Linked DNA regions of Homo sapiens. The protein of the gene in region 1 interacts with the protein of each later gene in a pairwise test. Each region holds a gene or a part of one and is shown on either strand. Other genes may lie near its edges.

What was found.
Region 2: the proteins of SERBP1 (region 1) and PRMT8 interact in a two-hybrid assay, tested with the Homo sapiens proteins (one large-scale study listed by BioGRID and IntAct).

What each region holds. Positions count from the first base shown.
Region 1 is NC_000001.11:67,420,187-67,424,003, forward strand, and holds part of SERBP1 (SERPINE1 mRNA-binding protein 1), read right to left. Parts: intron 1-3,817. UniProt on the Homo sapiens protein: Ribosome-binding protein that promotes ribosome hibernation, a process during which ribosomes are stabilized in an inactive state and preserved from proteasomal degradation.
Region 2 is NC_000012.12:3,539,397-3,543,213, forward strand, and holds part of PRMT8 (protein arginine N-methyltransferase 8), read left to right. Parts: intron 1-1,209; coding exon 1,210-1,395; intron 1,396-3,817. UniProt on the Homo sapiens protein: S-adenosyl-L-methionine-dependent and membrane-associated arginine methyltransferase that can both catalyze the formation of omega-N monomethylarginine (MMA) and asymmetrical dimethylarginine (aDMA) in proteins such as NIFK, myelin basic protein, histone H4, H2A and H2A/H2B dimer.

The DNA.
Region 1 (3,817 bases):
CTGTGAAAAGGTTTTCAAGTTTTATACCTGGTAGAGAGCTGATATTACATAAAAGTATTTTAAATTTATGATTTTAATTGAGAAAATTAACCTTGTAATCTTTTAGAGAAAGATTATTCAAGGATGAGGGTACCCTAGTTTCCTATGTAACTAAGCAACTTGGTAGAGACCAGGAATTCAGTGTTTGCTAATTAGAGACAAGTAAGGAATATGGAATTCATACTTATGAACTCTTAAATGATCATTTATCAGTAATACAATCTAGAACTGGCTTTACGAATACTAAAATACACATTTCTTAAAAACACTACCTTGTTTAAAAACTACCCTCTTATGTAAAATCCTCAGCCTATCTTCTCCTAAACCACATTTTTAATTTCCATAATTCCCACAATATGTAACTCTTAATAACATACAAGAAGGTAATCCTCTAGGATGTCTGTCAGCAACCAGGGTTCAAATTTTGGAATATAAAAGAACTGTTCCTCTATGCTTTGTTTCAGCAACTAGCACTTAGAGCAAATCAAAACAATAGCCGTGTTTCTACAAATCCTAAAATCCTTATACTCCAATTTTCAAACCAACCTGTATATGGAAAGGAGGCCATGGATTCACTACTAATAGAACTATCCACAAACACACACTGGTTTCATTATTTAATACTAAACCATTTATTTCCAAATATAATTCTCAGGTCTTAACTATAGAATATGATCCTTTCCTCTTTTTACAGAAACAAAGCACAGGCCTAAGGATCCATTATTTTAGTATAATCTCAATCTGCAATTGTCACCAAACAAGTCATTTGCTATTTGGGGAGCCCTGCTTCTTTCCAAAGATAGCAGGTGATTCAGTTAGCCTTAGAGCTCAAATATCTCCCTGGATGCTGCCCTTTACTGTTTGACAAATGCTATCTTAAAAGTTCCTCCAGTTACATCTATGCTGCAAAAAAAAAACAAAAAACTTCCTAGAGCAAGTTTATATTGAATTGACAGGATCTTGGGATCTTGGGTACTGAGTCCACCTAGTCATTTTACAGATGAGAAATCTAAGAATATAAAAAAAGTCCTGCTTACCCATATGTTATGACACAGCCAGGAATAGAACTTAGCATACCTTTTATCATATCATGGAGGCATGACACCTACCTTTCAGGAATTACTGCAAGGATTAAATAAAAACCAAACAGAAGCTCTGGAAGCTATATATAAGTTAGTTCATCAAAGTCAGCCAATGTTGTGTTTCTTAAATTTATACTTCCATATGCTATGCCCAGATTCTCCCCTAGTCTGGAATAAGATTACAGACAGTTCTAATGTGATGGATAATTATTTTCTTTAAACCAAACACCCTCAGTTTCGCTCCTGGGCACTGAGCTAAGGATTTGCTACCAATAGCCTATCAATACATTAGTACCTTTTGGTAAACAGTTATAATCTTTGCATATCACTGAGTGATTGAACATGGGCTCTATTAAACAGTTGTGGTTGGACACGGTGGCTCACACCTGTAATCCCAGCATTTTGGGAGGCCAAGGCGGGAGGATCACTTGAGGCCAGGAGTTCAAGACCAGCCTGGCCAACATGGTGTAACCATGTCTCTACTGAAAATACAAAAATTAGCCAGGCATGGTGGAGCATGCCTGTAGTCCCAGTACTCGGGAGGCTGAGGCAGGAGAATCGCTTGAACTTCAGAATGGCCAAAATCGCGCCACTGCACTCTAGCATGGGAGACAGGAGACTGTGTCTCAAAGAAACAAAAAAAAGTTGTGTTGACCACTATGAGAAACTTAACGTTGCATAGGGTTCATTTGTTAAGGCACCAATCACAACTTCATTGTTTATCATGCAAAATTATGATTCCATTATAGTTTTGCATAAATTTTTATTACCAAGTTCAAAACATCACCCAATACCATGTATTTTTATCTACTCCCTCCAATAGTATATCATTTTTCCTTATCCCAACAAATCCACGGAATATGATATTCCCATCATTAACAGTGCTCACCATAAGAGCAAATTCTTTCTGAAGAAAAGAAAAAGTTTAAGGTGCGGCAGCTCACGCCTGTAATCCCAGCACTTTGGGAGGCCAAGGAGGGCAGATCACCTGAGGTCAGAGTTCGAGATCAGCCTGACCAACATGGAGAAACCCATCTCTACTAAAAATACAAAATTAGCCGGGCGTGGTGGCACATGCCTGTAATCCCAGCTACTCAGGAGCTGAGGCAGGAGAATTGCTTGAACCCTGGAGGCAGAGGTTGCAGTGAGCCGAGATCACGCCATTGCACTCCAGCACAGGCAACAAGAGCAAAACTCCATCTCAAAAAAAAAAAAGAAAAAAGAAAAAGTTTAGAAAACATCTGCCCCTCCCACCCCCCAACTAACTTGAATATGCTTCTGGTTAGGAATCACTGTCCTAAATAACCTGTAATCCAAGACTTTAAACCACAATACTGTAACAAATAACTGGCAAAGTAAACATGATTTTAGGTCAGGCGTGGTGGCTCATGCCCGTAATCCCAGCACTTTGGAAGGCCAAGGCGGATGCATCACCTGAGGTCAGGAGTTCGAGACCAGCCTGGCCAACATGGTGAAATCCTGTCTCTACTAAAAATACAAAAAATTAGCTGGGCGTGGTGATGCATGCCTGTAATCCCAGTTACTCGGGAGGGTGAGGCAGGAGAATCGTTTGAACCCAGGGGGCGGAGGTTGCAGTGAGCCAAGATAGCGCCACTGTTACTTCAGCCTGGGCAACAGAGCGAGAATGTCTCCAAACAAAACAAAACAAAACAAAACAAAACAAAACAAAACAAAACACCATGTAATTTTAAAAGCTAGTGAAGGGCTGGGTGTGGTGGCTCACACCTGTAATCCCAGCACTTTGGGAGGCCAAGGAGGGTGGATCACCGAGGTCAGGAGTTCGAGACCAGCCTGGCCAGCTGGTCTAAAAAATATAAAAAATTAGCCAGGCATGGTGGCGGGTGCCTGTAATCCCAGCTACTCCAGAGGCTGAGGCAGGAGAATCGCGTGAACCCGGGAGGCGGAGGTTGCAGTGAGCCGACAGTGCCACTACACTCCAGCCTAAGCAACAAGAGTGAACTCCATCTCACACACACAAAAAAAAAAGTTAGTGAAGGGCTGGGCAAGGTGGCTCACGCCTGTAATCCCAGCACTTTGGGAGGCCAAGGTGGGTGGCTTGCCTGAGCTCAGGAGTTGAAGACCAGCCTGGGCAAAATGGTGAAACCCTGTCTCTACTAAAAATACAAAAATTAGCCGGGCCTGGTGGCAGGCACCTATAGTCCCAGCTACTTAGGAGGCTGACGTGGAAGGATCATTTGAGCCCAGGAGGCGGAGGGTGCAGTGAGCCAAGATCACTCCACTGCACTCCAGCCTCGGCAACAGAATGAAATCTTGTCTCAAAAAAAGAAAAAAAAAAAAAAAGATAGTGAATAACATACTCTGATCTTTGCTCTCTTCATACATTTAAAAACAGGCCAGTAATGCTATGTTCCAAATTCTACATTGGAAATAACTTCAAGATAGAACTAATGTTAAAATGGCCACATTTTCTAGTTTTAACTATCTCAAAGTAAAATTTGTACAGTTGTATGACAATGGTAAAATGACTAATCAAACAGAAATAACCACATTAAAATATTCTATTTTTCAAAGCGTTAGAGTCAAATATATACACATAAACCACTCTTTTAAGGGCTGGGTGCAGTGGCTCATGCCTGTAATCCCAGCACTTTGGGAGGCCAAGGCAGGAGGAACGCTTGAGCCCAGGAATTGGAGACCTGCCTAGGCAATATAGT
Region 2 (3,817 bases), on another chromosome or scaffold:
AGTTCGCTATCTGCCTCCTAGTATCTATTTTTAATTTTACTAGAGCCAGGATAGGACCCAGGAGCCTGGATTCCCAGCCCTAGAGGACTGACTACTAGATAATACTCCTTTTTTTATTTTTCTAGTTCAGCCCTGCTTTGAGGCCTTTACTGTGCCTTGTACATCTGGGTCTCCTGCACTCCAGGCAGAGGAGGTCTCCTGGCATAACTGCTTCTGTTGCAGTGTTTGAGCTTCTGGGCTCCAATTGCTGTCTCTGGGCTCCAGAAGCTCTGTGGACCCCCATCTCCTTCTCCCTGCTCCGCCTAGCCTGTGGAGGACCAGGGAGCAGACAGTGATGGGCAGCAGCAGTGGGTGTAGAGCTGGGCTGGGCCTCAGGATTGGGGCACCCAGAAATAGCAATAATTGGTTGTGTGGAGGCCATCAGTGTGGGTATCCACAGTGCTGAATTCAGGGTAGAACTGTGAATCAGAAACTAGGGGGCAAGACAACAGGTAGGAGACACCAGAACCTAAGACATCTGCATTTTGGGGGCCGTATCCTCTTCTAGCTTGATGCTGCCTGTTGAGTGGAGAGAAGCCCATGGGTTCACGTTCCTGAGGATGCAGGTGGGACTTCGTTTCCTCTAACAAACTCTTACTATATGCCTGGCCCTTTTCTAAGCACTTTGAAATACAAACTTGTCTAATCCTCAGGACAACTCTAGGAGGCAGGGACCATTTTATTCCCATTTTAGAGAAAAGGAAACTGAGGCACTGAGAAGTTCATAAGTTTGCCCAAAGTTGTATAGCTGGGAAATGGCAGAGCTGGGATTCAGCTCCGGAATCTACACTCTCAGGCACCATGCTGTGCTATGCATCTTTCCCTTTATTGAATGTTTCCTATTTGCCTTCAAAGGAAGATACTATTTTCCCCATTTCACAGATACAGAAACTGAGGCCTGCATTGCTCAGGTCACCTAGCTAATAAGAGCTGAAGGTGGGTGAAATCTAGGTGTGTGTGGCTCCTCGGTGGACTGCCATCTCTGGACAGATCACAGCCATGAGCCCAACTGCTGGGAGCTGGAAGGGCTCACCTACCTCCCTTTCAGGAAGGGCTGCTGTGGCTGCTTGAGGCCGGGCTCAGGGAGGGGGAAGGAAAGAGGACCGCAAGCCTCCGAGGGCGGGACCCCGTTGTCTCTCCTAACACCCGACCCCCTTCTCTTCCCCTCAGGTGAACAGCCCCCCCTCCCAGCCCCCCCAGCCCGTCGTCCCTGCTAAGCCCGTGCAATGCGTCCATCATGTGTCCACTCAACCCAGCTGCCCAGGACGGGGCAAGATGTCCAAGCTGCTGAACCCAGAGGAGATGACCTCGAGAGATTATTACTTCGACTCCTATGCCCACTTTGGGATCCACGAGGTAAAGTGTCCCGAGTGGGTGGCTAATGGGGCGAGGCTGACTCTGCTGTTCTGTTGTTTTCAGAGGCAGCATAGTGTGTTCAACTCCTTACCATGGTAAAGGGAGTGCTCCCAGTGTTCCTGAGTCCTCTGACCCTTTCTCCAATCCGGGGGGCCCCTCTGGGAGGGGGCCAGGCCAGGCCTGGAGCAGGGGAGCAGGTGAAAGTGTGTGTCTGTATACTCCACAGCCAGAGAGAGCACACAAGGTGCTTACGGTCCATTTGTTTTACATTCCAGCTCCCGTGTCTCTCCCCAGCCATAAACCCAGCTCATCCATTGTGGGCTGGATAGCGCTGGTCTTTGGACCAGGAGCTCAAATGCTGCAGTCAGAGTCCTGAGGCAGCAAGGACCTTTCAGAGGTCATGATGTGCATTCTTTTGACCAATGAGCACCTCCGGGGGAAGAGCTGCAGGAAGCTTTCTTGGGAGCTTGGCCCAGGTCTGACACCCTGATTGATTGTCTGGAAATTCTTATGTCTAAATGCCAGTTTACCCCATAGCAGGGAAGACTAATGTTGACTATGGAACAGAACAGAACCTCCTAACAAGAGGCATCCTGGCCATAGTGGGGGCCTAATGGTGCCCCTACTGTATATCTTTCATTATAATCTCCAGCACTCTCTCCAGCCACCCCAAATAAACAAGTAGGATTTACTGAGTGCTTGCTAAGTGACAGGCACAGTTCTAAGCACATTATACGTATCATTTCATTTAAACTCTATGAAGAAAATATGTCCGTGATCCTCTTACAGCATAAGAAAAAATTGAAAAAGGAACAAAAGTTTGCTTGCTGTGCAAATCGGTTTTCAAAACAAGTCTTGAAGATCTTCCTTCCACGTACTCACTGCTGTAAACTCTTCCTATGTGGAAATGATGACCCTGCCATTGCCGGAAGGGTGTTTAGTAATAATAGCCAGCTCTTTTGTTTGTTTGTTTCGTTTTAGTGCTTACTACGTGCTGGTGTTGTTCCAAGCATTTTATATTATTGGTTCATTTATTCTTCAGGTCAATCCTGCAAGGTTGGTGTTATTGCTTGTCCCCATTCTCCAGATGATTTAGGCCCTTAAGAATCAAATCAACCCTCATTCATCCTTGACGGTTTTTTTGTGTGCGTGTGTGCGTGTGTGAAAGGCCACAAGCTAGTAGATGGCACAGCTAGCAATCAAACCTTCACCTTTTGTTCCTAACCATCATGCCATACAGCCCTTAAAACAAGTTTCCTTTCTTTCCATCTGGAAACTGTAAAAATTAAATTGCCATATTTGTTCCTGCTGGTTCTTCTGCAGCCCTACATGGAGGTAGAGGGTGGAAGGAGGCCCCCCAGTTACTTCTAGACTCAGGGGCTCAGCCTCATTTAATCCAGGGAGGCTCAAGGTTTGGGTCCCTGAGAACTGTTCACCATGTAAAACCATTAAGCCTGGACCTGCAGGGGAGGAGGACTGGGGCCTGTGTTCGGTCCAGAAGGTCCTGGCCCAGGAGGGCCTGGACAGCTGAGCCTGCAGCTTCTGGGAGATAAAATGCCATCTCAGGGCAGATGGATGAACTCTTACCCCTTCCTTGACCCTGCTCTCCACTGGGCTAGGGATTCCTGGAGCCCCATCCTTGGCCTGTGAGAGGCTCTTGGGGGCAAAAGAGACTCTGCGAAGGCCCCTTCCTCAAGACCTTGTCCCTAATTAAAAGTCATGTTCTCCATGTGACAAGTTCTAACAGGCCTGTGGCTCTGGGTACCCATTTCAGGACAGATTCTTGGGAAAAGAGAGCAGTTCCAGGGACCCCAAAATGTCTCCTCTTGGGCCTGCCCAGAACTCCCCCATTAGAAACCAAACAACCATGAGGTGCACCTCAAGCTGGGTCTGCAGTCTCCCCTCCCCACTCGGAGCCTCCGTGATCGGCTTCTTGGACACCTCCCTCTGAGTTGCTAGGTTCCTGCTGAGCCACACCTTTGGCGTTTAGAGTGTGCTCCACTAGGCTATTACCGATCTCTATAATTCCTTTGGGACTTGGTGTCCCCAGCCTGTTACCTACAGCTTGGCACATTGTCTGGAGAGCAAAGGCTTGTTGACATGGCTGCTAATCCAGTCATTCAGGCGATGCCTGGTCAGCACCATGACCCAGCACCCAGGGGAGAGGACATCAAGTTTCACCAAATAAATACTAGACCAGTTTCCCTCAATTGTGTGTACTTATGGAAAAGTCAAGCTTGTGCATACGTATATATAAACATAGTGCGGGCTGAGCAGGGGACTTAGAGTATAAGACCTGTGAGTCATAGATCACATTCCTGTCCTGGGAGAGTGCTTAGCAGCCTTCCCATTGGGAAATACTTCTGGACATCTAGCTTAAATCCCTCCTGCTGCTGCTATAGACCATCTCATAGGTCCTTTA